2 linked regions of the Homo sapiens genome follow. The protein of the gene in region 2 interacts with the protein of the main gene of each other region in a biochemical or structural test. Each region holds a gene or a part of one and is shown on either strand. Other genes may lie near its edges. The genes, in order: DNPEP and PAK5.

Region 1 (15,878 bases), on a different chromosome or scaffold from region 2:
AAATTTTAAAAATAGAAAAAAGCTTACAGAATAAGGATACAAAAAAGAAAATACTTTTGAATAGCTGTACTATGTGTTTGTGTTTTAAGCCAACTGTTGTTACAAAGGAGTCAAAAATTTTAAAAATGGAAGGTTATAAAGTAAAAAAGTTGGCCGGGTGCAGTGGCTCACACCTGTAATCCCAACACTTTGGGAGGCCGAGGCGGGCGGATCACAAGGTCAGGAGTTCGAGACCAGCCTGACCAACATGGTGAAACCCCGTCTCTACTAAAAATACAAAAATTAGCCAGGCATGGTGGTGCGTGCCTGTAATCCCAGCTATTCAGGAGGCTGAGGCAGAATCGCTTGAACCTGGGAGGCAGAGGTTGCAGTGAGCCGAGATCGTGCCACTGCACTCCAGCCTGGGTGACAGAGTGAGACTCCATCTCAAAAATAAATAAATAAATAAATAAATAAATAAAGTTAAAAAGTTACAGTAAACTAATTTATTGTTGAAGAAATACAATTTTCAAAATAAATGTAGTGTAGCCTAAGTGTCCGGCATTGATAAAGTCTGCAATAGTGTACAGTAATGTCCTAGGCCTTCACATTAACTCACCACTCACCCAGGGCAACTTCGAGTGCCGTAAGCTCCATTCCTAAGTGCCCTATACAGGTGGACCATTTTAAATCTTTTATACCATATGCTTCCTGTAACTTTTCTTTTTCTTTTCTTTTTTTTTTTTTTTTGGTTTTGTTTTTTTGGAGACAGGGTCTCACTCTGTCGCCCAGGCTGGAGTGCAATGGCACGATCTCGGCTCACTGCAACGTCCACCTCCCGGGCTCAAGAGATCCTTCCCAAGTAGGGAAGGCCTCCCAAGTAGCTGGGACTACAGGCATGCACCACTCCGCCTGCCTAATTTTTGTATTTTTTGGTAGGATGGGGTTTCACCATGTTGGCCAGGCTGGTTTTGAACTCCTGACCTCAAGTGATCTGCCTGTCTTGGCCTCCCAAAATGCTGGGATTACAGGTGTGAGCCAACACGCCTGGCCTTCTGTACCTTTTCTATGTTTAGATACACTGACCATTTTGTTACAGTTACCTACAGTTTTCAGCACAGTAAGAAGCCGTACAGGTTTGTAGCCTAGGAGCAATGGGCTACACCACACAACCTAGGTGTGCAGCAGGCTGTCCGTCTAGGTTTGTGTACATATACTCCATGATGCTCACACAATGACAAAATTGCCTAATGATGCCATTTCCCAGAATGTATCCCTGTTGTTAAGCAATGCATGACAGTATATATGTGTGTATATGTGTATACACAATACTGTCATGTGTTATATACATACATGTATACAACATATATATGTACACACACACACACACACACTGAGGAGAAAGGACTAGATGTCTAATTTCTCAGGCAAGAGAGAAAATGAGTAGTTGGAGTTCCATACTCCCCAGCCCTGAACTTTCCCTGTGGAAGCCCCCAGGGTGTGTAGGAGACACAGGGGAAGTGGGGGTGCTGCAGGGAAAGACAGGCCTACCATGTGCCAGGAGCACACTGTACCTTCAGTCTTCATAGAAATCCAGCAAAGTAGGCATCACTATCACCCCTATTCTACAGATGTGGAAACTGAGACTCAGAAAGGTTAGGAGACTAGTCCAAGGTCACACAGCTAGCACTGCAGCAGAGCCAGCATGGAATCCAGCTGTATCCAAAATCCCTGCTTTTCTCACTCTACTGGGACCCCCCTCCACTCAAGGCCATCTACCAGGTTCCCTGTTCATGGGGGGCCCATCTGTTTGTGCCCCCACCAAGCTCCCTCCATCACACCTTCCCAGGCAGGGCCCACCCTCACCTGCAGGGGGACCTTGACTTTGTTGGCCACCTCTCGGATCAGGGCCTCTGACACCGCGTTTGAAGCATAGCGTTGCTTGCTGTTCACCTTGATCACGGGGCCCTGGGGAGAGTCAAGGTGAGGCAGAGGTAATGACAGGCCCAAAGGGAATGAGTCGGCGCTCGGAACAGCCAGACCTCCAAGTCCCTAGGGAGAAATGGCACGTCTCACCTTGTGGAATAAAGGCCGGTGGTTCTCCTCATGCTTGTCCCTGTAAGAGACAGATAAGGGCCAGACATAGCAAACAGGAGCAGGCCTGTCGACACTCACCACCCTCCCATGGCAGACATCACTAATAGATCACCACTCTTTCCCGCCCAGCCCAGTGGGACTTCAGAGTCATTCCACACACAGGGTTCCGGGCAGCCTCTAGCAATAGATGGAAACAAGTTTGTAGACAAAGGTGTATTCCACACACCTGGGTTAGGCATTGCATGACTTTGACCAAGTTGGTCTCGCAGTAGTGAAAAGGAAGTGCCCGTGAACCTCCCGGCAGAATGAAGAAGGGAGAAAGGAAGAGGCTGGGGCCAAGGCAGAGCCTCAAGGCAGGTTATGCTTGGGTCTCCAGCTATGTGAAGACTGTGTGACTGGCACTAGAGACTCACAGGTAGTTGGGATGCACAGCATGGGCCATGTCTGCGCTGATCATGAAGGACTTGGGTATGGCTTCCTCGAAGGCTGTCGGGTGCTGGCACGAGGCTGAGATCCGCCGCAGCACCAGCTCTGTCAGCAGTGACTGTGCTCCCTGTGCACTCTCAGACCCCACCTGGCGACAGTAGAGTCCTGACTCTGGGAATCTGGGCTTAGGGGCCTGATCTTGGAAGCCAGTGAGAGGGGCCCATTGCCCAACTGGCCCAAAACCCCACTGAGTCACTGGGTGTTCTTAGCAACACCCCTAACCTGGGGTCGTCACTGAACACCAGACAGTGGGCTGAGACCAAACTAACTCACATTCTTAACAGTACTGGTGGGTTTCCTGCACTGCTCCCCTTCCTCCTCTCGTGACCCTCACATCTGGGGCTCAGCACAGGTGCCCCACCACACTGGTCAATTTTCTTTTATGTGTATGACAGAGACTGCTAACTGTCCATGATATCTTTTAGAACACCCAAGTTGTAGCTAAGCACTTAACTACCCAGCTAGAGATGACATTTCCAGGCTCCCCTGCAGCTAAGTTCTGTGGAATGTAAGCAGTGATGAATGTCACTTCTGGATCATGCCCTTAAAGCCAGGGGGTGTCTACTGCCCCTTTGCCCTCTCTTCCCTTCCTACTAACTCAGTGTAGACATGATGGCCAGAGCTGGAACGGCCACCCTGAATCCTGAAATGGAAGTCATGTGTTCAGGACGGCAGGGACCCCTCCTAAACTGCTAACTCTGACCTGGGTTGTTACATGAGAGAGCACTAGCTGTTCAAGCTCTGTTATGCAGCTGAGACTGCAGCCTCACACACGCAGGCATCATGAGGACCTACTCTGTGCTGAGCCCTGGGGCTACGAGGATGGGCTGGGTAGAGTCCCTGTCCTAAAGGAAGAAGCTCACCATGTGGCACAAAGAGAGATACAGGAGAGACGGTCACCCTCGAATAAGCAGATCTATGTTGAGTCAGAGGAGACACCAAGTGCTAAGGAGGCACAGGCAGCATCTCCCCTGTCTTGGGGCCCCCAGAAGAGCCCTGGCTCACGGTGGATGCCTGGCACAACAAGTTGGCTGTGGAAGACTCCGCAGAGGTGACCCTCCCCAGAACCCTCCACGTACCTCTTCGTTGTCATAGAGTGTGACCATGCGCACGTGAGGCTCTGTGGCCAGGGAGCCAGGGCCTGCACAGGAATCTATCAAGGCCTGGTTCAGGGAAGGAAATGAGAGCATCATCTCCAACCTGCTTCTGCTGGAACTCAGCCCACCAGCACCTTGGGTGTGCACGCTCCCCCATCCACCAGCACCTTGGGTGTGCACATTCCCCTGTCTGCCTTCCATGGCCATGACTTTTATCAATTAGGGCACTGCCTGGCAGAGGGTGTGGTGGGGACCTTTTTTTTCTTGCCAAATAAATAGCTACATAGGTAGAAACCTTTAAGGTGTGGTGAGGACCTTTTTTTTCTCTTTTTTTCTTTCTTTCTTTTTTTTTTTGGCCAGATCAATAGCTAGGTAGAAACCTTTTCAACTGGGACAGGAGACACCATCCTTTGGGTGTTGTTCTCTACCTTCCCATGCAAAAGGCAGTAGAAGATGTGGAGGACAGAGAGGAAGAGCTGAGAGTCCTGGAAAGCCAAAAGGCTACACACATCACATAAACTGATTGGCCTCAGGGAAAAGACTGAGGTTCAAAGAGGTGACAGACTCCATCAAGGTGACATGACTGGCTGGTTGCCTGCAGAAGTAGATGCAGGTCCCAGGTCCAGCTCTGGTCTCAATTACAGCCCAAAGCCTATCTCCAGCCACAGGATTACAGGGAAGGAAAGGCAGAAAAAGGCAGAGGGAGATCAAGGGCAAGAGGAGAGAAAGAAAGGGAACTGACTAGGGTGGAGAGAAGGTGGGGAATATCAAGGTGACTAGGAAGAGAGGCTACCTGACTGAGATCCCAAGAAACAGGGAGAAGGCTGGGGTCTTAAGCCTGGGGAGTGGCGTAGGAAGCAGAAGGAGGTGGATGATACTGCCTTGTGGATGATAAAGCCTTTCCCTGAGGCAGAGGTTGTTAACTTCAGGAAAAGCAGCAGGAGCAAGGCTAGGACAAGAGACCATGGTGCCTGAAACAACTTCTCCTCCTTCTTCTTGCCTCAACACCCTGATAGTGCAAGGGCAGAGACCAAAGGTGGCGATGCTGAGGCTGCAACATTTAGGGCCCCCTCCTGGTCCATCCAGCACCAGCAGACTGAGCGGGTAGACAATGGCCCTCTCTCACAACCTGCTGGGGCTTTAGGCAGCTCCCCCGACCCCAAACATACCACCTCTGCTGGTGGTTATGTGCTGCCTGGGGCGCCCCGGCTCCTCACCTGCAGGGCACAGAAGCAGCTGTGCAGATTGTCCAGCCGAGGAGCAAAGATGAACTCATCATAGGCACCACCCAAGACCTAGAGAGGTAAGACAGTCAGCCCGACCTTCAACCCTCCACCCCCACTCACCTTTCTTTTGCTCCCAAGGGTCTCCTTGGTTTCTTGCGCAACCTCTCCCTGACCCCTGGCTTAGGGCACTATTTTGTTTTTTCTTTTTTTTGAGATGAAGGTTCGCTCTTGTCGCCCAGTCTGAAGTGCAATGGCTCGATCTCGGCTCACTGCAACTTCCGCCTCCCGGGTTCAAAGGATTCTCGTGCCTCAGCCTCCTGAGTAGCTGGGATTACAGGCATGCACCACCAGGCCCAGCTAATTTTTGTATTTTTATTAGAGACAGGGTTTCACCATGGTGGTCAGGCTAGTCTCGAACTCCTGACCTCATGTGATTCCCCCCGCCTCAGCCTCCCAAAGTGCTGGGATTCCTTGCTAGGCAGGACCAAGCAGAGATTGGAGAAGGGGGCTGGGTTGGTGCTGAGGAACAAAAGGGTGGAGGCCAATAGCTCTTGACCTCTTCCTGTGGGTCAAGAAAAGGAAGGGCTGAATTGTCATCAAAAAGGCCAAAGAAGTAAACAGAGGAAACCAGCCAAAAAACAGAAACTTAGTACGTGTTCAAGCAGGACACAGCATCCAAAGATTTAGCAATCTCTGACCATCAGCAACCGGGAGACAGAGAACAGATGGCCACATCCAGGCCTCTTTCCCTAAGCAGTTCAGTGTCAGTGTGGGTCAAAGCAGACAGGGCCCACCTGTAGAAGAAACTCTTTGGGAATCTGTAAAAAGGGCCAATTCCCAGATAGTCCTAGTGGGCAGGTCTGGGGTAGGGAACTTGTCTTTTTGAGAACCACCGCCCTAGAAGCAGTGGGGGATGTGTCTACTGGGAAAAACGGGGATGAGAGTTACTGAGGGCTTGGTGGAGGTGATGGGTGCTTCAGCAGGACGGGCTAGGGGTGGCCAGGATCCTGGAGGCCCTTCACCCACAGGTTCCTACAGCCAGTCCTCACCGCAGGCTGGGTGTCTGCAAGGCAGAGCTCCATCTCCACTATGTCCTTGGGGCTCAGCCCCAGATGGGCACAGAGCAGGGACATGAGGACCGAATGGTGCCGCTCATCCTGAAGAGCAGAAAGATGCTGGGAAGAGTCCATTCCTCCTCTCCTCCCCACTTCTCAGGGGACTCTGCCGCCCTCCCCATGATCAGGAGACTCTCTTACCACAGCATTGAGAGGCCCTGGCTCAGGAGTCCCCTTCTCCAGCTCCTCCTGGATGGCTGTGGCAAGAATGGGGACTCTGTGGGGAGACGTGGGTTGTGGGGGGATTGCGAGGAGGGCACAGCTGAGTGCGGCATCCATAAGTTCAGGTGCCTCCTGATGGGCAACTGCCTCTGCCCTTCAATTCCCAGCCCACTCCCCAAATCACAAGGCTGTGAGGACCCTTAGAAATTAACTGGGTCCCAAGAGTAAAATGTGACCTAATGGCTACCATTAGGTAATAATCACCTGGTACCATTCTCCATCCCTCCCAGCCACCGCAGCCCTGCCCCAGTCTCACAGATGCATCTCTGTGTTGGGCCCAAAGTTCTCGTTGATATTTCGCTGCAGATGGATGGCCAGGTGTGGGATGCGAAGAATGGGCCGCTCCACGTGCACCAGCTGCTGCTCCAGCCGACCTGAGGTAGGGCACTGCAGCCAGCCAGGCCAGGTCAGCCCAGGGTGCCTCCTACCCCAGTGGTCAGTCTTTACTTCACTCAGACTAAGCAGGGTGGTCCTCTGACCAGACTGCCCCCACCCCTCTTCCCCACGGGTACCCTGAGGAGTGTGGCAGTCAGTCTTCTGAGGAGGCTCCGCCATCCCCAACCTCGGTTCCCACCTTGACAATGACGCGTCCAGCCAGAGTCAGGTCACGGTCAAACCAGGTGCTCCAGATCCCACCACCATAGGTCTCCACACCGACTTGCTGGAAGCCCACCTGGCTGCGGCGAGACCGACGTTTCACCTGAGTGTAAAGATGGAGAAGTCAGAGAAGGCTTCATGACGATATGTGGAGATGAGACTTTGGCTACTCATAAGTAACAGACAGCGAATATTAGTGTCACATGAAAGGCTCAAGGTGTGAAGGAAGGGGCCAACAAGTTTACCTTCTCCCTTACTCCAGGGGATAGAGGCCCCAGTTTGTACCTCCTAGTTCTCTTTTGCCCTGTACTCCCTCTGACATCTCCTCCCACCCCAACACCGTCCGAGTTCCTTACCCGGAGGCAGGGGCTGTCCGTGTGGGCCCCGATGAGGCTGAAGCCATTGCCAGGAACGTACTGGCCCCCTACAGCAAAAGCTATGATGGTGGAGGAGTTCCTGGTCATGAAGTACTGAGGAGAAGGGGAGGAAAGACAGGGGTGTGAGTTGCATTACTCAGCTGGCACACAGGGCTTGGAGACCAGCCTAGGGACCTGCCTTTCCACCCCCACCCCACCCCCAGTACCTTGCTCTCGGGCTTAATATTCCATTTCTCAGTCTCCTTGAGTTCACTGAAGCCAGCCTGGAGAAGGCGGTTGCGGCATTCAGCCACAGCTGTGGGAAAAGCACCCTCTCACAGCGATGGAAGCTGGTGAAGGGCGCATCAGCCTCCACCCTCCTCCCTTGCCCTGGCCACCGCTTACCATGGAAAGGAGAGGGACTCCGGTTCACGAACTTGAGGAGTTCCTTAGCCGCAGTCTGCACCGCCTCTTTGCGGGCCTTACCGTTCATGGCCACCTAGGGGAGGGGGATGCTCAGACTTTTACAAGGTCTGGGACCCCTGACCTTTCACCCAGGTTCCGAGGATTCTCCCATCCCCACCCCCAGAAGTGACCACTCTAAGGCACAGACCTCTGCTTCCGCCCGTCCCCACCGAGAGACCCAAACCCAGGGCTGAAACTCCGTTGAAAGCTTCAGCCCGCCGGCCCAGGATCATGAGCCAGGCCCGCCCCTTAATCCGAACTTTAGCCCGACTCCCTAAGTCCCGCCCCCATGTCCCTGCCCAGCTAGGAAATCCTGTTCTGCTCCCAAACTCCGGGATCCCAAGCGGGCCCCATACTCTGAGGCGGCCTGCATCACGTGCGCGTACCCAGCCCGGAGCCAAAGCCCTGTACCCCAAGGAGCACCCTGACTCCTCTCTCGCACCCACCTAGTCTCTCGCAGGACTCCCCCTTCCAGTCCCGGGAAAGTCGTCAGGTCACCCTCCGCGGGGCTTTCGGTTTCGCTTTGGGTCAGGCGGCCCCACTGCAGCACCGCGCTAAGCTTGGGCCCCGGAGGGCGCCGGACCCGGTCTGGGATCGAAATTCAAGTGGGGCCGTCGGGAGCCACTTACCTGCATGGCCCCGCGCGTGGGGCTGTGTCCGCTCATCTGGCCTCCGGGCTCGGCCCGCCCCCACCGCGCCGCCTGCCCCGCCCCTCACTAGCTTTGCAGGTCCCCCGCGTGCCCCTTCAGGCCGCGCCGCACTCGTAGGCCTTCATCACGCTTCCCCGGCCGCGCCGCCCCGCCCCATGTTTGGCCTCCCCGCCCACCTCTCCCCGCCCCTCGGCATCCGCCCCGCCCACCTCGGTCAGCCCCGCCCCTCGGCGGGCTTACCCTGTCCGCTCCGCCCCTCGCTGGGCACCACCACCCGCCTTGCCCCGCCCTTGCCCCGCCCCTAGCTTGGCCGCACCGCCCGCCCCGCCCCGCCCCTCGCCAGGAAGCACCGCCCGCCCTGCCCCTCGCAGGGCTGCACCGCCCGCCCCGCCCCTCGTCAAGCTTCCTCGTCCGCCCCGCCTCTCGCCAGGCTGCACCGCCCTCCCCGCTTTGTCCCGCCCCTCACCAGGTTTCCCCCATCCGCTCCGGCCCTCGCTGTACCCCACTACTCGCCCTGCCCCCGCCCTTGCTCCGCCCCGCCCTTCGTCAGGCCTCCTTGCGCTCCCCGCCCCTTGTCAGGCCGTGCCGCCCACCCCGCCCCGCTCCTCGCCAGGCTGCTCCACCCGCCCCGCCGCTCGTCACGCTTCCTCGTCCGCCCCGCCCCTCGCTAGGCTGCACCGCCCGCCCCGCTTCCGCCCCATCCCTCTCCAGGCCGCGCCTCCGCCTCCGGCCCGCCCTCGTCTCCGCCCCTGCGGGGGCTGCTCGTTAGGCCCCGCCCTGCACCCCCGTCACCCACGCCGCGCGACCCGCAGCCGCCGCCAGGGCCCTCTGCTGCCGCGGAGGTGCTAGGACAGCCGCGGACGGCCCGCCTCCCCGTGCCCCGGGCCTCGAGGCCAATAAAAAGCTCGCCCCTCCAGCTCACCGGGTCCGACGGGTACGGTACAAAGTGCTGTCTCTCGCCACAGCCACCTTTGTGACAATAAAAGCAATAAGGCTAATGTCCATGGGGCGCTCACGGTGAGCTTTAGCTTTATGATAAAGATTGGCCTGTTACCTCGTTTAATCTTCACAACTGCCCCATCAACTATGTACTCTTACTGTCCCCAGTTTATGCATGAACAGAGAAAGCTGAGATACGGAGACTAGTGATCCGTCGAGGTAATAAACGGCACAGGTGGGGTTTGAACTCCATCAGTTTGATTGCAGAGGCCTGGAACAACCCTACAGCCTTCTCTCAGATCTTTTCTGGACCTTTTTCTATGCGCTTTGGTAAGTGTTATGTTACACGGGAGGTCCACAAGGGACACAGAAGTTGACTTGCCCAAGATCACATAGCTGTTTGGGTGGATCTGGGATTTGACTCTGATATCTGTGCCCTTTCCATTTGTTAAAAACAACAGAAAAACAAATTCCACATTATTGGCAGTTCCAGTATTCCCATGTCAGGAGTAGTGAGTAGCACGTTTAAACCCCATGCACCTTCCTAGCTGCAGGAACTGATCAGGACTCTTGGTGGCCTCTAGATCCAAAACAGGGCCCAGCTACCAGGGGTTCAAACAAAATTCCAGAGATCACAGGTTTATGGAGCAACCTGCCGTTTATATACCTGGGGTGGGGAGTGACAGGGTGGGATGGGGAGAGGCTGGAAAGGTCCTGCAGCCCTCACTTCAAACTAGTAGATATGGCAGGGGAGTTTTCAAGAATTCACCCACTAGGTGCTGGCTTAAATTCATGGCATTCCCTAACCGTTTGTTGAAATACCATTATGGGCCTGGCGCAGTGGCTCACGCCTGTAATCCCAGCACTTTGGGAGGCCGAGGCGGGTAGATCACTTGAGGTCAGGAGTTCGTGACCAGTCTGACCAACATGGTGAAACCCCGTCTCTACAAAAAATACAAAAATTAGCCGGGTGTAGTGGCACGTGCCTGTAATCCCAGCAGCTACTTGGGAGGCTGAGGCAAGAGAATCGCTTGAACCCGGGAGGTGGAGGTTGCAGTGAGCTGAGATCGTGCCACTGCACTCCAGCCTGGGCGACAGAGTGAGATTCTGTCTCAATAAATAAATAAATAAAATTATGTATAAAGCTCAATGCTGAGCAGGACATGGAGAGAGCATTCTTGTCCTCTACCTCCTGGGGAGGGGACACATTCAAGGAGGACAGTGAAAGGGCCGAAACAAGGCTACAATGTATAAGGGAAGGAGACAACCTGAATAAGGAACCACCTTTAATGTTCTTTCTGATCACAGAAAAGAGTACATGCTTGAGTAAGAGATTCAAACATCACCAAAATGCATAACTTAGAAAGTGAGCCGGGAGTGGTGGCTCACGCCTGTCATCCCAGCATTTTGGGAGGGAAATACAGAAGTGTTCCTATTCAAATCAGAAGTGAGACATTGATGAGCTATTACTGCTGCTAGACAATGTGGAGCTGTAGTCAGAGCCAGTACCACAAAACAAAATTAACAATTCTATATGTGCAAAAGTAAAATTGGTCATTATTTATAGATTATATGATTATCTAGAATCCCCAAGAAAATAAACGATCAAGCTATTATTAGAACTGGTAGGAAGGGTAGCCTAATTTAAAAAACACTGACTTTCTTGTACAATAATCACCTAGAAAATATAAAAGTAAAAAGGTTCTTATTGACCATTTTTGGTTTGGGTAAAAAAGAAAAAAGTAAAAGGGCTATATTTACAAGAGCAAGAAATATTGTTAAATTTCTAGTCATGAACATATGAGACACCTAATCTCACTTTAAACAGGAAAATGCAAGTTAAAAATGAGATAACAGTTGGGCGTGGTGGCTCATGCCTGTAATCCCAGCACTTTGGGAGGCAAAGGCGGGTGGATCACGAGGTCAGGAGTTTGAGACTAGCCTGGCTAAAAATACAAAAAATTAGCTGGACATGGTGGTGTGCACTTGTAATCCCAGCTACTCAGGAGACTGAGGCAGGAGAACTGCTTGAACCCGGGAGGCAGAGGTTGCAGTGAGCCGAGATCGTGCCATTGCACTCCAGCCCAGGCAACAAGTGCGAGACTCCAACTCAAAAAAAAAATTAATAAATAATAAAAATGAGATACTTTTTCTTTTTATTGAGCAGATTAACAAAAATGGAAAAGATGGGTAATATCAAGTGTTGGAGAAGGCTTGGGGTAATGCAAGCATTTTCTGGAGGCTAAAGCAACTCCATCTGGGAAGCTAATCTGCCATGTTGACTTTTCAACAACCTGTTCCAGGAATGACTCTAAGTTTTCTACTTTACCTACTATTACCATAAATCCTGCGCTTAGACAGATTCACATAGCATTCATGACTTTGCCTGAGGGGTCAACTTCAATTGTTTGACACATTGTTTCCCTATGGTATGTAAGCCCTGGGTTTGCAGGGTAATCCACCATTTCATCTCTGAAACTATGGCCTCTATTCATAAGTCCCTATGAAATGTTTCTTTCTGAGAGACTGTATATGTCAGCCTCTTTCGTCGGCTTTTCAGCTTCCCTGAACTTTGGGGGTATGTTTGCACAGACCTTTATACCCAAATTTCTGTGGTGTAAATGTTCCCCGTGGCCGATTTCAAGCTGTCGAGATGATGTCACTGAAGGGAGTTGGGAAGAGCTGTGCGGAAGCATGCCATTATGTAGATTTCCACCATGCAGACACAATGGATAGAAATAACATCAACAGCATAGATTTAAGAAGGCAGTAAAATGTTTGGAAAGGTGATGGATTTTTGGTTTTCATTATCTGTAATATAATTTATTTAATTGTAAGTGTATATAATTTAGTTTTTTTTAATGATTGCTGTGTTTAACAACAAGCTCACCAAATTCCTGGAAATTTGACAATCAGTTCTCATGAGCTTGTCCAAGTTGGCCCCAGCACACTATTCCACCCGTACTGTACATCTTTGCTACTAAATGTGTGATCTGTTGACCAGCAATGTCAATAACATCTGGGAGCTTTTTAGAAATGCAGAACCTCAGGGCTTACCCTAGAGTTATAGAATCAGCATCTGCATGTTAACAAGATTCCTAGATGATTTGAATGCTTGAGACACAGTATTTTAAAGTGCTGTGTAGCAGTTCATAAAAAAAAAAAAAAGGTCAGTCTTTAGGAATTGTTACAGAAAAGAATTCCAAATATACTGTTGAGTGAAAAAAAAAAGCAATTTCTAGAATGTAAGGTGAGGGCCTTTAGATAAAACTCACACAATGAGCTAAATTTATATTTCTAGATGTTATATAAATACATATGTAAATGGATAGAAACAGGTTTGGAAGGATAATGGTCACCTCTGGGTAAGGGAATGGTGATGGATTTGGAGTTCAGGTGGCAAAGTCAAGGGATGACTAGGGATCAAGAAAGAAAAAGTTTCTGAGAATCGTTCTTGCCCTTGGCCTTCTGAGAAAATCTTCCCTGGAAGATCTCGGCTGATGTTTACAATGCTACCATTATTCATTCATCTTTTTGGTTTAACACATATTAAAGTGCAAATACTTTTGCGTGAACATAGAAGTCAGTTACATACACTTCAGTGTGAGTTTATAAGATACATATGTCTTTTTTTTTTTTTTTTATTGAGACGGAGTCTCGCTCTGTTGCCCAAGCTAGAGGGCAGTGGCAACCATCTCAGCTCACTGCAATCTCCGCCTCCTGGGTTCAAGTGATTCTCCTGCCTCAGCCTCCCATGTAGCTGGGATTATAGGTGCCCTCTACCACACCCAGTTAAATTTTTTTTTTTGAGATGGAGTCTCACTCTGTTGTCCAGGCTGGAGTGCAGTGGCGCTATTTTGGCTTACTGCAACCTTCATTTCCTGGGTTCCAGAGATTCTCCTGCCTCAGCCTCCTGAGTAGCTGGGATTACAAGCACGCATCACCATGCCTGGCTCATTTTTTGTATTTTTAGTAGAGACAGGGTTTCACCATGTTGGCCAGGCTGGTCTTGAACTCCTGACCTCAGGTGATCCACCCACCTTGGCCTCCCAAAGTGCTGGGATTACACGTGTGAACCACCGCGTCCAGCCTAGAACTACAAACTATTGATCCTACCTTTCCCTATTCCTCACTCCTGTCTTCATGACTCTCCTACCTAGGATGAGCCATACATTCCACTGTTGTGCTCACTCCCTCGCACACACCTTCAAGTTCCTGCTCTAGATTTGCGGACTTGCCTGGCAAAACCCCAACCCTGACTGCAACCAGCTCCTCCCCTGCTCCAACCTGTGTGGCTGGAGAAACATCCAAGCCGCGCTGCCTGGTCTCACTTTAAACCAGTGGTGTCCGGTCTTTTGGCTTCCCTGGGCCACATTGGAAGAAGTAGAATAGTCTTGGGCCACAAATAAAATACACGAACCCTAACAATAACTGATGAGCTAAAAACCTTTCAAAAAAATCTCATAATGTTTTAAGAAAGTTTACAAATATGTGTTGGGCTGCATTCAAAGCTGTCCTGGGCTGCATGTGGTCCATAGGTGGTGGGTTGGACAAGCTTACTTTTTTTTTTAGTTTTTTTGAGACAGAGTCTTGCTCTGTTGCCCAGGCTGGAGTGCAGTGGCATGATCTCAGTTCACCACAACCTCTGCCTCCTGGGTTCAAGCGATTCTTCTGCCTCAGCCTCTCAAGTAGCTGTGATTACAAGCATGAGCCACCATGCCTGGCTAATTTCTGTATTTTTAGTAGAGACAGGGTTTCACCATGTTGGCCAGGCTGGTCTCGACCTCCTGACCTCAAGTGATCCATCTGCCTTGGCCTCCCAAAGTGCTGGGATTACAGGTGTGAGCCACCACACCCAGCTGGACAAGCTTGCTTTAAACTCAACCACTAACCTAAGTGTGTTCTTTGTACTGCCCAGAGGTCCTATTGCATCTCCTGGGCCATTTGCTTCTTTGCTTTCCTGGAGGAGAGTTTCATCCAGTGTCTTCCTCCATCCCCACTCTCAGCCGAGGACCATGGTTCCCATTTTACTGTGAAAATAGAAGCCTTCAAAAGAGAATTTCCGCAAGTTTTAAGCTGCCACGCCTAGGCTCCTACCAGGATCTGAGCTCCATATTCTGCTGTCCTCATTTCTGTGGGTGAACCATCTGTGCTCCTATCCAAGGCCACCCTCTCCACTTGTGCACAAGATTCCACCCCTCTTGCTTACGTAAGGGCACCATATCAACTCTTCTTCCCTTTCTCCTGCATTATCAATCTCCACAGTTCTGGCGGGTCAAGCTGATTAGCATATACATGTGCTATAATTTCTCCCAAGAAAAAATAATCCTCCCTTAACCCCCAGTCTCCCTCCAGCAGTGGCCTCATTTTCCTTCTCCTCTTTATGTAAATCTCTTTTAAAAAGAACTATCTAGTCTTATGTTTTCCCGATTCCTCTCCTCCCATTCTCTTGTAAATCCTCTAGAATGAGGTTTTACCGCTGTCATTCCACCGCAACTTTTCTTGTCAAGGTCAAAAGCAACCTCCACAATGCTGAACCCAATGGTCGATTTTCAGTCCCCATTGTCGTTGACCCATGGGTCCTATTTGACATAGCCGTTTGCTCTCCTGGGAACACTCTCTTCACTTGGCCTTCCAGACACTTACTACCCTCACCACCACTCCTTTGGGTCTCTTCTGGCTCCTCCTCATCTCCCATCTTTAATGTTGTTATTATTTTATTATATTCATGTTTTTAAAATAGAGATGAGGTCTCACTTTGTTGGCCAGGCTGGCCTCCAACTTTGACCTCAAGCGATACTCTTACCTGGGGCTCCCAAACTGCTGGGATTACAGGCATGAGCCACGGTGCCTGGCCTCATCTCCCATCTTTAAATGGAAGGCCTCAGGGCTCAGTGCTTAGAAATCTCTCTACCCTCACTCCCTTGCTAATGTCCAATCTCATGACTTTAAATAGTATCCATACCCTGACAATTGTCAAATTTATGTATCCCTAGCCCAGATATCTCTTCTGAACTATATATATTCTCATATATCCAATTGTTTTTGCACAGTCTCCATATGTGTGCCTAATAGGAATCTCCAGTGTAATATGTCTTAATCTGAACTCCTTGTTCCCCAAACCTATTCCATCCACATTCTTCCCATCTCAGTGTTGTGCTGAACCCCTGTCCACTCCAATAAGGAAGGCCCCAGGTTCAAGAGGCCAAAGAAGAGACCCAGAGCCAGCAAACAAGACAAGGTTTTTTTTTTTTTGAGAGGGAGTCTCACTCTGTTGCCCAGGCTGGAGTGCAGTGGTGCGATCTCGGTTCACTGCAACCTCCACCTCCTGTGTTCAAGTGATTCTCCTGCCTCAGCCTCCTGAGGATTACAGACATGCACCACCATGCCCAGCTAATTTTGTATTTTTAGTAGAGACAGGGTTTCACTATGTTGGCCAGGCTGGTCTCGAACTCCTGACCTCAAGCAATCTGCCCTCCTCAGCCTCCCGAAGTGCTGGGATCACAGGCGTGAGCCACTGGGCCCGGCCGACGTGGGGTCTATTGAGGAGAACTTACATACAAGATGGTCCAGTGGTGGCGAGCTGGACAGTAGAACCACTGTCACCTGCAGAAAGCACGCATTTTCACTCAACACCTGCTCCCTAACA
Region 2 (15,908 bases):
TATTTGACTGGAACACGTGACAAATACTTCCTAATCCAGTGTCTTTGAAATTAGCATGGCCAGCTGGAGAATCGTTGGTGCATTTCTTCTTCTACTTCTTTCCTATAGGAAAAAAGCTTGGCATGGAATAAAAAACCCTTCAGTTCTAGAGTAACCTCAAATTCAAATCCTGGCTGTATCAGTTATTAAATGTGTGGTCTTAAGAAGGATACCTTTTAAAATTTTGAGATAGAGTCTTGCTCTGTTGCCCAGGCTGGAGTGTAACGGCGCAATCAGAGCTCACTGCAGCCTTGAACTTCTGGGCTCAAGTGATCCTCCTGTCTTAGCCTCTCGAGTAGCTAGGACTACAGGGACATGCCACCACACTCAGCTAATTTTTAAATTTTTTTAATAGAGACAGGGTCTCGCTAAGTTGCCCAGGCCGGTCTCGAACTCCTGTGCTCACGTGATCCTCCTGCCTTGGTCTCCCAAAGTATTGAGATTACAGGCATAAGCCACCATGCCTGGCCAATAATATTTTTCCTGTTTGAATTGTAGCTTCATCACCTGGCAGACAGGTACATCAGCATCTGCCTCATAGAAATATGTGATGGTTACATGATTAACATATGAAGAGCTTGATGGTGCTTGGCACTTTCCCTTCCCTTCTATAACCCTCTGTTTCCTGGAAATTAGAAGGATCTGACGTAACAAGATGTTAAGTTAATGCTAACACTTCAGTATGTATAAGAAATACCTGAGTATTTGGGTACAGCATGGATTCTCATTTAGTTGGTCTGGGGTAGTACCTGAGATTCTGCATTTCTAACAAGCTCCCAGGTCCTCAGACAGCACTTGGAGTTGCAAGGGGTTAGATGTTTTATCAACCGATCAATAAATCATTCAGTAAAGCAGTTATTCAATATCTATTAAAGGAAGCTCTCTGAATTCTGAGTTTAAGATTTCGAATACCAAGTATTCATGGTGTTCCTTGACACACAATTTTGTTTTGCCTCTGGAGTTACTGGGTCTTTAAAAGGGAAATCAGTTGACAATCCTGGATGAGAAAATTAGAAAAGAAAATGGATTTTAGGGACAGACTGTCTTGAGTGGTTTCCATGGATACAAAATAAGAATGGAAAGGAACCTTGACAAAGGTAGAGCTGGAGACCTGAGTGGCTGTATGAAGCTCTGGAAGGCAACAAAAAGGTTTCTCCCCTGAATATATTTTTATTTTTTGCTTTATATGTGAAAAGCAAAAAATGTATATCACATTTGCCTTATGCTTAGATCTTTCCAGTATATTTGTTTCTACCAATTAAGATGATCTTATGTGTTTTTTTGTTGGGCATGTCTTATTGCTACAACATCAAGAGTCTGCCAGCTGAATTGTTGGTGATAAATGTCTTCACTCACAAAGCTTTATTTTGAGATAGCCTACTCCAGACCGAGAACTGTAGAGCCACGTAACATCTCATTTCAGTGGAGAAAAAACAGCATGTTTTATACTTCACAGGGTTTCCCAGTACTTTCTTGTTACCTTGTTTTCCACCAATTATGTACCTGGATCCACTTTTGATTCAGGTACCATTTCAATAACATCAGCTAACACTCAATACCTCTTCCTCATGACAATCCTTCCTTAACTTTTTGGCATTTTATTTACCATCAAAACCAAAGTTAAAGTTTCCCAAATGTAACATGCTATTTTGTATGTCTATTCCACAGAACCTTGCTTCTCCAAGTATGGTCCATGAACCAGCAGCATTGCCATTGCCTGAAAGTTTGCCGTAAATGCAGAATCTTACACCCTCTCTATTGAGTCAGGATATGCATTTTGATAAGATCCACAGTGATTTATGTGGACACTGAAATTGAAGAGGCACTGTCCTAGCACATATTCTTTCCTCTGCCTTCAATGCCCTTTTCCTCCTACTTGCCTTCTTAGTGAACTCCTATTCGCTCTCAAAATCCATCTCAGATGTCACCTTATATTAAATAGAAATATTTATTGACTCTTTCTGAGAGAGACATTTAGGTATTCTTCTATGCTACATATATATATCTTCTTAATTCTGCACAGGTATTATAATGTATTTCTCATCAGTGATGTCCCTGAGGGGATATATCTGAGCCACATTCATTTGTATCTTCTGCATCTCTACCACTTACAAAACAGCCTGGCACATAAAAGGTGCTCAATAAATACTTAATGAAATGGCTGGAACTGGCACATCAGGGAGGCAAATAGCTGAAGCAATAGGCTGGTAATTAACCATCGTTACTTGCAAGCATATTTTAAAACAGAATTGCAGAATTTCTCTGTGCCACCCAGATTCATTATTTTGATACAAAACTTCAAGTGATCCTCTCCCTGTCCCTTCCTTCCCCTGGTATCCTTGGTGTCTTAGCATGCAGCAATGGTAGAGTAACTCAGGAGAATGAAATTCAGCTTTAGAAATCTATATAGGCGACAGGACATTCTATTATTTGTCACTGAAGCTTCATTCTTAGCAGGTTGCTTATTTTAAATCAATGGGTATTAATGTCCTTCTGAGGGCAGGGAGAACATTCACCAAATGAATGAACTATACATGCCTGAGAGCATAATGGGCCCTCTGGGGAATGTAGGGGAAAGGGTAGTCATATTCCCTGACTCCAAAGTGCCTGCAATTTATGAAGAGTTCATAGTCACTGCGGCTTTATCCTGGAGAAGAATAAGAAGCACCTCGAATTCTCTGGATAATAAAGAAGCCTACCTGGTGTGAGTCACAATGTCTGTCAAGGCACCACCTTCTAGAAACTCCATGACCACCCAGAGCTCATCGCCGACAAGGTAGCTGCTGTACATGTCAACCACATTGTCATGGTGGTAATCCCGCATGATCACGACCTGGGGAAACGGGAAATATACTTTTGACTTGTGAAGATGAAGTTGCTTTTTGTTCTCTTGTGGCCACAACTACAATTGTAAGTAAACTGATTGAGAGGTACTGATTGTGGGGAAGTTTATTCAGAAAATCTATTACAGACAAAAAGCATCAAGGGTAGCTAGTAGAAATAAAAGGAATCAAGGTAGCAAATTTGAGAGAAAATGGCAGGTCACTCTGACATTGGAGAGACACAGAGAGAAAATGAAAACAAGTAGAACCAAAGCAAGATTTGCATTCACAAGAGGGAGTTTGGTTGACCATCTTTGGGGATATGATCAGATATCTCTAAGGGTCTCCTTTAGAATGCACTGTTCACAGTCCTCTGCTGGTTATCCTAGCAAAGGGTCACCAACTCGTAGTAATTGAGGGAATGAGTCCCACAAGTGAATGAAGTAAACTATCTATTATTAGAACTGGAGCCACACAAGACCAACTTAACTTCTCCTTGGAAGTAGGTATGGGTTGAACTTCAGAGATATTTGGGCTGAATTGAAAGAATATATATTGAAGATAAAAATAAGTATGGCATAGAAATTAAAAAGGCTAAGGAGCCTGCTTGCTGGAGAGAGCTTCCAGAAATTGCTGCCCTGTGGCTGTTTCCACTCGAGTTTTCAGAGCTAGTGTTAAATAATAAACTACAGAATTATTTATCTACATCATATTGCTCTGTGTGTTCTGGCATTGTGGTTTGGAAAATAAATTCCAGAAACCAGGAATGGTGGACTGGAAAGATGCTGAAGCCCAGTCACCTGGAACTCTCTGTGAGATTTGGAGCGTGTGTAAGAAATAAGCACCCGTGGGAGCTGGAGATGTGTGGAGGCCACTGGGGGCTTCATATGAGCCTCCATGATAAACAGAGTTCAAAATTGCAGCTGAGTGCATTTGTACAGTGCCTGTTTATGGACCAAACACCTTCTTACTTCTCAGAGAATGGGAGTCCTTACAATAGAAAGACAAAGAGGTCAAGCAGCCGTAGATTGTTCTGGGAGTTAGAAGATGTGGATTGTACATGCTTTCCTGGAGACTAACATCTAACACTGATACCCTGACTTGATATTTTAGGACTTAGATCTCTCATCCACAAAAACTTATCTTTCCCCTCAATGCTCTCATAAAATTACTAAAAGAATATTACTCCAAAATACTTTATGTGTTTTCTAACATAATTACTCATGTTTCCCCACCTATTTTAGAGCTCTTAAGTGATAAGTTTAAAAGGTAAATGAGAAAGTGGAAGGTAAACATTAAAGTACAACAAATATACAGAGAAGGGTTAATTCCTTAACATATCAATAGCTCCTACACATCAATAAAACAAATGCTAGCACCCTAATTGAAAACTGTGTACAGAACATATGATTTAGTGAAGAAATAAAAATGGCCTATAACCACATAAAATTCAATTTAGCTACACTAGTAATAAAAGTGCTAATGAAAACAGTAAGGTTTATTCATATCTAGCAGATGAACAGAGATAACATGACAGTCTCAATGACGCTAGTGAAGGTGAAACAATACTATTGGTGAGGGTCTAGATTGGTACAAACTTTCTAGAAATTAACACTGTATATCATTTATCTAAAAAAAGTACATATCATTTGATCTGTTCATCCTACTTCTAGGAATCTAATAAATTATCAGATATGAAGCCAAAGACTTATGTGTAACAACACTCACTGCAAAATAATAAAAGTGACAAATTGGAAACAGTATAAATCAGAAACTGGTTTTAAATATGATACATGTATACGATAAAAGATTATTAAGCCATTAAAATTGTGTTTTGACATGTAGCTAATAGAATACGTTAATATATTTTATTTTACATTAATAAAAATAAGTAATGTATGCTGATATATTTTATTTAATATTAATTTTATTAGTATTAATGTTAACATTAGGTGAAATTTAGAAAGTCACAGAACCACATACATCTAAAGTTACCTCAAATTTATTAAATCAGTGACTGGTTTAATAAATTTGATACATGTATATGATAGAAGATTATAAGGCCATTAAAATGGTCATTAAATCTACTTTACATTAATAAATATAAGTAATACAGGTCAATATATTTTATGATATTAATTTTATTAGTATTCATGTTAATATTAATTGAAATTTAGAGAGTTACCAAACTACATATATAATTATCTCAAACAAAAGAAATTTGTAAACAGAAAAATATAGAAAGGAAACACTGAAATATTAATGTAGGCTATTCCTTGACTGGGATATCTGTGGGACATTTTCTTTACTTTCCATGTATTCTACAGGAAGAATTCATTATTTTTATAGTTAGGAAAAATATTTTAAAGTTCCTAAAGGGTGATAGTCCATTGGTAAACTGACCCTGGTCTACTGTTTTAAAAATTGTTTATGGAGGGTATATTATGATATCATAGTAGTGTAAAATATATACATACTCATGTAGATACAGTGTAGCATAAGAGTTAGAATCTGCTAGACAGAGATTCAGATCCTAGCTCTACAGTCAACCTGCTTGACCCTGAGCCGGATCTCTTAACCTGAGTCCAGGTTTCCTTGTAAAAATGGTGATAACATCTTTCTATCTCACAGAGTTGTTGTGAGGATCAAGCTAGATTAATGCTTAGTACAGTGGCTGATACACATGAAGTACTTTATAGATGTAACAGCCATATATGTGCATAGAAAAAAGACTAGAAGGAAATATTACAGGGGACGCTATTTTTGTCTTTATATTTTCAGTGCTTTTCTAATGTCCTAAAATGTACATGTGTATAACTTTTGAAATGGGAAATAAATGTTACAAAGGAGAGAAAGGATGACCCAAACACACTCTTTACCTCATTGAAAAGCAGTTCTCGTCTCTGTTGCTTCCGGAGGTCCATTTTCTTCACTGCAACTTGTTTCCCTGTGTGTTTCTCGGTGGCGATGCATACGATGCCGGTTGAGCCTTCCCCGATTTTGATAAAGTTGGCCAAGTATTCCCTGGGGTCTCCTGGGCTGACCACCAGCTGCAGGGCCGCCCGAAACTGTTCATGGGACACCCTGGAGGGCTGCTGGTCGGAGGAGGAGCCCCAGCTGGGCGGCGGGTAGGTGCTGGATGAGAGGCTGAGGGAGCTCAGGTAGGAAGCCGTGGAGATGTACTGCGAACTGCTCTGCAGGGAGGGGTGATGGTACAAGGTGGCTTTGTGGTACCCAGACGGGTACTGGTGACTGCTTGAGGAATAGCCCGATTTGCTTTGACTTTGAGGTAGTTTGGCAGGGCCCCTGGGGTAGGTGTCAGACCCTGACAGTGGAGGGCTGAGGACCATCTGTGCTCGATCGTAATCCACCTGGGAAGACAGACATGGATAGAGAATATTCACATGCTGGATCTGAATGCCACAGCCGAGTGGTGAGTGAGCTGACTGACAGCTGGCAGAATGAGGATCACCAGTGGGAGATGAGAGGATCTGGCTGGGGCACCAACAGGACCGGCCACACCTAGGGAAGGGCCTTCTGTGGTGCACGTGCACCACAGCAGGAGGTTACTTCACGTGTGTCATATCTAAGGTGTACTTGCTTGTTAAGCCCTATTTTCTTGTTCAGTAATGAAAAACCCCATCCCTCATTAAAGGACATTAGTTTTCAGCTAGCATTTTTGGGAGACATTTCAGGGGTAGGAGGCCTTTTCCCATGCTTCTGAATTCACATACTAGAGGGTGGTATGGACATATATGTATAACACAGGTATAACACAGCAGATGTAGGTACAGGGGAAAATACGTCTCCCTGTGCTAAGTGGTGTGAACCACAGGGTGAACATGTGCAATGTTCTCACCAAATAAGTACAAATATAATTGAGAGTGATCAGACTTTGCAGGGGTATGTGTGAAATGAAAATGATGCTAGACCCGAAAGAGATCCCAGCAAAGAACATCCACTCTGACTTGGAAGAGTGGGATGAGGGGATTTATTGGAGGAGAATGGGGAAGCCAGTGAGGGGATTACTGGTATATGATACAATATGTAGGTCCAGCAGTCACTTCCTGGAAAGAATCAGGAAGGAGCTCTGGCCACTCCTGGAATTGCTGAGGCCAGGATGGTAAAGATACCACATCTTGTCATGTGGTATGCTCCTAGCCCAGGGCAGAAAGTGCTAATCCATCAATGCACTCTGTTTTGGAAGATCTCGATGACAACACAGTGCTGGATACATAGAAGGTACTCAGAAAAGATCTGTTGATTGGACTTGAGGCTCTTTCTTAATGCAGTGCCCCAGAAAGTCTCTATCACTCTACTGGGTGTAAATGGAATGGCATTAACTTATCCCACTCCCCTACCATCCACCCCAAGGACCTAGATCTATTCTAATATAGTAGCTACAAGCTACACGTGCCTATTTAAAATAAACAAAAATAGATTAAAAATTAAAAATTCAGTTTCTCAATCACACTAGTCACATTTTAAGAACTCAGTAGTTACCACATCACACAGTACACATATAAAACATTTTCCTCATTGCAGAAAGGGCTATTGGATGGCACTATTCTAGATGAATTGATTGTTCCCATGCAGCACATTCATTCATTTATTTCAAAAATTAATATTTGAGCAACTATGATGTGCTATGCACTGTTTTAGGTGTGAGGGGGAGGGTCCACCAACAGTCAAAATGAATGATATCTCTGCCCTCCTGGGGTTTATGCTCCAGAGAAGGAAATAGATAATAATAAAGAAAACCAGTAAATATACAGTGTGTGTTTCAGTAGTAATGAATAATATTAAGAAAAATAAAGCAGAGTGAGGGGGTTGAAAGTAATGAGATGCCATCTTGGATAGGGTAGTCACAGAAGGACTCTCTGAGGGGGTTCCGTTGGAGCAGAAGCCTGGCTGAGTGAGGGAAAAAGCAAGATCCCTTTCCTAGGAGGGGTGGTTTGGGCAGTGGGAGTGGCACATGCAGGATTCTGAGGCAGATCCAGGCTTAGTTTGTGAGGAAGAGCAGACGCTCAGCTATAGTGGAGTGTGTCCACTAAGGAAGATGGGCCGAGAAGCTGCCGGGGGACAGATCATGAAGACCTTGGCAAAGACGTTGGCTTTTGCTCCGAGTGAGGTGGGAAGCACTGGGGGTTGCTAAGCAGACAGGAATGACACAGTCTGACTCTCTGGCTGCTGGAGGAGAGACTTTGGTGGCAAGAGTGGAAACAGGGATGCCAGCAGCTTATCACAGTTAATGTGGGCTGAGATTAGGGTGGTTATTGTAGATGGGGTGAGAAATGGTGAAATCTAGGGCAGGATTTGAAGATGGAGCTGACAGGATTTGCTGATGGATTGGGTGAGATCTTGAAAGACAGGAATCAAAGATGGCTATCAGGATTTTGGCCTAAGCAACAGGCCATTTAATGAGATGAGGAATCCAGGGGCAGGAACAGGGCTTGTGGGGTGTGATAATCAGCTTCCAAATTGCTCTCAATGACCTGTGCCTCCTGACATTCATATTCCTATGTAGTCCCCTTCTACACTGTATTGGGATCAATCTGTGTGATCAAAGAAAAAGGCAGAGATGATGGCAAGTTCCTTTGCTTTCTTACATCATTTATTTTGGCTTTCACCAGCTGCCATGTCATGAGGACACTCAAGAATCCTTTGGAAGGGTTGGGTGCAGTGGCTCATGCCTGTAATGCCAGAGCTTTGGGAGGCTAAAGCTGAAGGATCACTTGAGCCCAGGAGCTCAAGGCTGCAGTGAGCTATGATTGCACCACTGCACTCCAGCCTGGATGACAGAGTGAAACCTTGTCTCAGAAATAATAAAAATAATAATAATAATAAAATAGAGAGGTCCATGCAGCAAGAAACTGAGGACTCCTGCTAAGAGCTAGCTAGAAATTGAGGCCTTCTGGCAAACAGCCATGTGAGCCATTCTGGAGGTGGATCCTCCAGGTCCAGTTGATCCTTCAGATGACTGTGTTCCTGTTTGAAACCTTGACTGCAACCTCATGAGAGATTCCAAGACAGAACCAATCAATCAGCTAAGCCCTCTCAATTTGTGACCTACAGAAACTGTGAAATAGTAAATGTTTGTTATTTAAAGTTTAGGGGAAATTAGTTGAACAGCACTATTTTTTGCTTCATGAGGCAGTTTGTTTTAAGCCATGAAGTTTTGGGATAATTTGTTATGCAGCAATATTGATAGCTAATACATGGTGGAAAATTAAGAGTTCTTTTAGCCATGTAAAGTTTGGGAGAGTGATTAGACATCCATGTGGAGGTGTCACTTAGGAGACTTAGGCATGCCCCAAGTCCAGGGAAGAGTTAAAGCTAAAGACATGAATCTGAGAGTCATCGGTGCTTAGTTCATATTAAAAGCCATGATACTGAATGTGTAAGAGATGGTCTGAGGACCCCAACGTCTAGATACCAGAAAGAGCAGAGGGATCTTGCAAAAGGGAGCAGAGAAGGAGTGACAAGTGCTGTAGAAAGGAAACTAAGGAAGCAAGGTGTCCTGGAGCCAAGGGAGGAAAGTATTTCAAGAAGGAAGGGCTAATGAATCCTGTCAAATGCCACTGAGAAGTGGGATGGGGCATGTTGCTCATTGGATCTGGTGACATGGTAGAGGCAAGCAGGTGTTTCAAGCTCCTGCCCCACCACGATGCATAAGAAGGTAGTCATTCTATCACATCATGGAGCAATAACTGCACACAGTGGGCTCTTTAAAATTGCTACCATAGCACCATTCTCAGTCCCCCAACACTGCCCATTGGTTCTACAATGACAGTGCCTGGCCTGCTGAACATTCAGCAATGCAGCCCTTCCAGCTTCAAAAACACTACACTTTACTAGGTGAATTCACCACTCAGACAGCCTTGGCATCAACCAGCAGGAACCAGGGTAGCTGCTAAGCTGCCCTCCTGCCCTGGTTGCAGAGAGAACACATGCTTTTGACGGGCATAGGAATGAATTCTGACTGATAATTTTAGTCAAGTCAACCTCTCTGAGTCTTAGTTTCCTTCTGACTCTGATAATTTTAGTCAAATCAGCCTCTGTGAGTCTGTTTCCTTATCCGTAAAATGGAACAATAATAATACTTACTTCCTTTGGTCACTGAACTCTAAAGGATCAAATACATATCAAAGTATTCAAACAATGACTGGCCAGTAAGTTCTACTTGGTGTTATTATTATATAAAATGCTTAGCACAGTAATGAGAATGCAAAATAAAATAAATAGTAACTGCAATATTATCAAACTAGCTAGCATTTATTGAAGACATACAATGCCCCTGTGGTATATATATTCCTATATATTAATACTCAAAGCAATAAGACAAGATGTAGTTAACATTAATATATTGAACAATGTATAGTTAAAATATTCAAAACCAAGCTGATTCTTTTCAAAGCCTCTGTATTTGTGCTACACAAGGAAAACGTGTGTGTGTGAGTGTGTGTGTATGATGGAATGGGGAGAGAGAAGTGTCAGTGTAAGTTAAACTACGATGGAATGGGGAGAGAGAAGTGTCAGTGTAAGTTAAACAACTGGATTCTTCCTTCAATAAGCTCCAGATTAGTCAAGTCTAGGCTAGTCAGCAAGGCCAGGGTGTGAAGGGAAATAGTGTTTTGGCTTTTATTTCTGAAAGTGTGTCCTGGGAGCCATCACTTGCCATTATCACCCTGTGTCTTCCTTGGAGGACTGGCTCCTGTACTTTCAACGAAATTGAATTCATTCCCCACAAGCATGTATAACTGATCTCTGAAGATATATTAAAAATGGGAAAGCTGCATCCTGCAGGAATCACAAACACCGCTTTGCACTAATTTAGGCCACTTTTCTTCCTTATCACCTGTCAGCAGCATTATCAGAATCCACCCTTAACAGCTGGCATATGACATAAAGAAGAAGCCTGCCTGCACCAAGGGGACAATTTCCAGGCAAAGATGGAATGCAGAGCTCTTTGCTGAAAGCTAACCATCTTCAAAATAGGCCATGAGACAAAAAGGTGCTGTTGTCTTTCACGGCTGCTGGTAAGAGGTACAGACTCTTAAGCAATGGTTGAGGAACAACTAGTATCACAAGAGACAATGTTTTGAATGAAACTCAAGGCATACTCATCAGAGAATGAACTGTTCACTTCAAGTGAGGGGACATGTAGTCTTCCCTCAGAGGACAAATAGCTGACTCTGTGAAGGAGAAATGCATGGGTGACCCCATTTGGGGCCACCAAGGTGCTGAACCATTGCCTTCTGTTGGATCTTAACCCACATGCGGGGTTCCATGATGGTGCGTATCACCAGCCCACACACTTTCAACAGGTCTTGTTCTTTTTATTCTGGGAATCAAGCAGGGGGCAACTGAATCCCATTTTGTGGTTGATAAAATAGAGGCACAAGGAGACGAAACTGCCCCCAAGCAATGCAGGGCAAATAGCTCCATACTTCCAAGGGGACGACATAACCTAGTTCTTCTGCCGGGGTCAGTCCTTCACTCCCAGTGGGAGGGCGCCCAGCACACTGGCCCACAGGCCGGCTCCCTTGCCTGCCTTGGCATTTCCAACATTCATTGATTTATAAGAATAATGATGTTTGATACTTATTGAGTGCTTTCTACATGCCAGGGACTGTTCTAAGCACACTGTGTATATTCTTGCACGTAAACCTCAAGCTGGACAATTAAATAAGCTCTGTAATTCCTCCATTTTATAGATAAGAAGACTGAGGCACAGTGGGTTTAAGTAGGTCATGCAAAGATCCCAAAGCTAAAAGAAGGGAGAAATGGGATTCAAATCCAGACAGAGTCGCTTCAGTACTTGGGTCCTTGAAAAATTCACAGAGATAGGCATGAATGATGGGGGGGGGGGATGTGGTCTTAACAGGGGCGGGCAGAGTGGGCAATGATGATAACCACAGAGATAAAGCCTGGTCAGGGTGTTTCACTGGGGGCCCAGATGTTTGGGCAGCCTGGGGCAAAATGCAAGAATTGGACCAGAACATGATGGATGATAATGTCTAGGAGAGGGGGTGAAAGACAAATTAAGGGTTTTTTTTTTTTTTTTGGCTTGTTTGTTTTGAGCAGTTTTGGCTTAGAGAAATGAGCTAAAAAAAAGAGTAGTCATCACAGCAAAACGAGTTGATTATCTATGTACATCATTCATCATTTTCCTTTTTGTTTTGGTCAAAGCAGAACTCTGCATTGTTACAACATCACTCAGGCTTTCTTCTGTAAGTTCTTTCAAGGAAGAAAGTGCAAACTTTCTTCTGCGATGAGACCTCCTCACATAGCTCTTGGACTTTCATAGTCATGTAAGTGTTCCATTCTAAGTTGTCTTTCTCATGATAGCCTATATTTGGAAGGCAGAAAACATAAATGATGAATTTGTCCATTCCTACTGTTTTACACACACATGTTCATGCATGTGAGAAAGATGTGCAAAGCAGTCCAGCTTAAACTGTGCAATCTTTTCTATGACCTGATTTACAAATACATTCTAGAAAAAAAATGAGTAGGCTTGAAGTTCATAAAAGCAGACCTATCTTTGGTATTGTGAAAGGGATTTGGGATCTGATTATTTAGTGAAAACACAATGCAGTGGAATGGGACTAGTGACAGGAATGATATTTAATAAGCAAATCCAGCATATCTCTCATCACCCATGATCCAAACCATTTCCAAAAGATTTATGTACATAGTTTACCCTTGCAGACCTTACAGCAAGGGCACGGAGTGCAGAGCAAGGGTGGGAAACTGCAATGTAAGAGAAAAAACAACAAAGGCATTCTTCCCATCCCTCCAAAGAGAACAGTGCTGTGATTTTGTGAACGAGTAACTCCTTACAAAGGAGACCATGGTCTGCAAAGTTTTCAGGGGGATTTCCATATGGCATGATGTCATGAGAGAAGACCAGGTCAATTGTCTTGCAAATTATCACCCAGGCTGCTAAACTGCTTAGCTGCAGGGTTACCAGGTCATTAATTGTCATTGAAAATTGGATACATTTTAAGAAGGAATTCTCTCTACAGGAATCTTTAGAAATATTGACAAAATGAACAAGCAGTCATGATTGTGATTTCCTCTTTTTTTTTTTTGAAATGGCTAATAACATACACTTGTTTTTTAGCTTCCTGACACTTTTTTGTATACCATATAAATTAATTCTTTAAAAAATGTGCTTTGTCATGTCTCTATTCAAACATGATCAAAAAAGAAAAAGAGCAAAAAAGAATATATTATATAAGGGAATAAATAATCCCCAGTTAACAACTCAGCCGGACTACCTTTCTACAATGAGCTCAACATCTCTAAAGATAGGGTCAGACACAGGCTTGTGATGTATCAAAATTATAAATAATTATAGCTATGAATTCACTTAATCAATCAATTTCACCAGAGCTACGCTGGGGTGGACGGGGCATAAAACTCCACACAGCTATCAATTGCTCCGATTACAGCTGGTTGTCAGCCAGAATTCCCCTGATCCATGTTAGTTAAATGCACATTAATCTGAATTTGGCAGTGTAATCAAGGACCTAACTGAACTGTGAAATTGAATTCTGCAGTAGAACATAATTTGACCATTTTATGCCAAGTCTTGGGGGGAAGAAAGCTTGGTTAGGGGAGGGTGAGAGAAAGAAGAGAAGGAAAAAACAGTACTGCAGGAGCATCTATTTGGCACTGTGGCCTTCTGTTCTGAGGGCAGGGGGGCCGTGGCTGGAGCGTGCTCGACTGGGGTGTGTGGACACAGCCACAGTGTGGGTCTGTACCCACAGAATGAGGACTCGGAATGTTCCGTGAAGGATGGCGAGTTACAGGGAGTGGGCGGCAGCTGGTTCCAGTGCCTGAATGTGATGCTCCAATACACCTTTTCAGAGCACAATAAAACAAAGACTGCTCATCTCGAAAATGAAAACGCCAGGCTGGGTGCTGCTTACTCTCCATAAATCAAATGCAAGATAAAAGTGAATCACAGTACCTCTATTATCTGAGCATGGAAAGGACATCTTAAATTGTCCTCACTTGACTCAAAGGAAAATTTAACAGGACCAGGCTTGGCTTTGGGAAGGGAAAACGACTGCTTGTAAGAATTCTGGAGAGAATCATTAACTTGCATTCTCTGTAGGGACAGGATAGAGACTGGCAATTAGGGGAATGGGACTCATTGAACCCTATAACTCGTCTGTCTCTCTGGTTGTGCCCTGCAAATGCACACTGAGAGTTGGACAAGTGGCTCATGACCCTACAAACTAGCAAAGCCTAGCTATATGAAGCAATGAATAAATCTGAGATGTGCAGGGTCAGGCATACGGGTATTCCAGGCTCTTCCTCCACCTCTGAATTGGCATATCCAATTAACCCCCCACAGTTGCTGCTTCAAACTCAAAGAATGTGTCTTCTATTCAAGAGCAGTGAGACAGAGCAGATTGGTCTGACCTGCGATCCGTCATCGCCTGCAGTGATGTGGAGGGACTCTTCGTCTTTGGGGACTGGTTTGCAGCCTCAGAATATTGTTCAAATATGTCAGGGCCTCTGAGAGAGCTAGGAACGGACAATGCCAGGTTAAATTCATTTTGTTTTTAATTTGGTAATGGGAAAACCCATTCATAATGACCAAAATACAATTTATTTTGAATCACAAGAGCATTCATGGGAAGAAGTGTCCATTCATATGCAAAGGACACCTAAAGTCTCCATCAGAAGGGACAGACGTTAGAGATAGTGCACTCAGTCAGTCCTTGGATGTTTTATGAGCCTTAATGAAGACCCTGTAGGTAAAGAAAACAAATCTAAATATATCCATTGTTATATTAAGTGATCAAGTGCTTCTCTCTTTCCCCCTCAGATTTTTAGTGCAGCCCATCAGTTTTCACTAGCACTGTCATTCCATAACCCATTAAACCCTGAATGGATCTCTGAACCGAGTTCTGCAGGGATCCTCAGTAGAAAAGAAGTTGCTGTTCTGTTGTTGGAGCCATGGTTGAATCTGGGCATGACAAGTACCACAAAGAACAGTGAATCAGTAAATTATTGATGCGGGAAGACTGGGCCCACTGGTTCAAGTGCTTTTTCCTTCCAGGGAAAGCAAAGTGATAGCTAAGCAGTGAAAACACATTGAACTGTTGACCCCAGAAGGAAGTGCCGGGAAATCACACCATCCTTTTCTTCCCATCCTTTTTGTTTTGTTTTGTTTTTTTAGACAGGGTCTCACTCTGTTGCCTAGGCTGGAGTGTAGTAGTGTAATTATAACTCACTGCAACCTTGAACTCCTGGGCTCAAAGGATTGTCTTGGCCTCCCCAGTAGCTAGGGCTACAGTTGTGTGCCACCATGCCCAGTTCAAAGTAGGTACTGAAACACTTTAGAGATGATGAAACTGATGCACAGAGAAGATCATACAGCTACTAAGCGCTTGAATCCAGGGAATCTGATTATAGAACTTGCATTTTTCTGTAATGGGTGAGAAAATCTGGATTATCTTTTAAAAAATCAAACAAGACTACCACTTAAGGTCAAATAAATGCATATGAGCACCTTAGGGATTTCTGCACCTAACACTTCCTTTACAGCCCATAGTTCCAGCTTTTACCCACGGTTTACACTCTGGGTGACATTAAGGAACTTCTCAAGGATTCCATCCTACATGATGGAAGAACAGGAAGAATAAACAGCATTCCATGGGCACAGCAAATCCACCTGTCAGTCACCACCCATTCTTCACCAGCAAGGTGAGGCTACCTCTAGGATTTGTGTCTGGGCCTGGAGACTTCATGTCCACCTTTCTGCCCCTGGATTTTCTTCTACGGAAATGAGAATATTCTGGAACACATAGACTTTGGAGTCAGTGGGACCTAGTTTGGAATCCTGACTCAGTTATTTGCCTTTATAAACTTGGGGAAGTCCATAAAGATTTGGAGTCTCAGCTTCCTCAACTGTAGAGCAGAGGTGATCCTGAATTCTTCTGGAATTGCAAAGATTAAGTTGAGTCATGTTTGCAAAATGCTTAGCACAGTGCTTGGAACACAGTAACCCTCACCTCACTGCCA

What was found.
Region 1: the proteins of PAK5 (region 2) and DNPEP form a complex in vitro, tested with the Homo sapiens proteins (one study listed by BioGRID).

The regions. Positions count from the first base shown.
Region 1 is NC_000002.12:219,379,490-219,395,367, forward strand, and holds the start of DNPEP (aspartyl aminopeptidase), read right to left. Parts: upstream 8,424-15,878; 5' UTR 8,306-8,423; coding exon 8,270-8,305; exon of another isoform or gene 8,087-8,269; intron 7,874-8,086; exon of another isoform or gene 7,789-7,873; intron 7,675-7,788; coding exon 7,581-7,674; intron 7,492-7,580; coding exon 7,403-7,491; intron 7,290-7,402; coding exon 7,176-7,289; intron 6,923-7,175; coding exon 6,797-6,922; intron 6,610-6,796; coding exon 6,479-6,609; intron 6,218-6,478; coding exon 6,142-6,217; intron 6,043-6,141; coding exon 5,935-6,042; intron 4,955-5,934; coding exon 4,877-4,954; intron 3,726-4,876; coding exon 3,642-3,725; intron 2,651-3,641; coding exon 2,490-2,650; intron 2,096-2,489; coding exon 2,056-2,095; intron 1,948-2,055; coding exon 1,846-1,947; intron 1-1,845.
Region 2 is NC_000020.11:9,560,153-9,576,060, forward strand, and holds part of PAK5 (serine/threonine-protein kinase PAK 5), read right to left. Parts: intron 11,157-15,908; exon of another isoform or gene 10,727-11,156; intron 6,233-10,726; coding exon 5,741-6,232; intron 2,950-5,740; exon of another isoform or gene 2,873-2,949; coding exon 2,739-2,872; intron 1-2,738.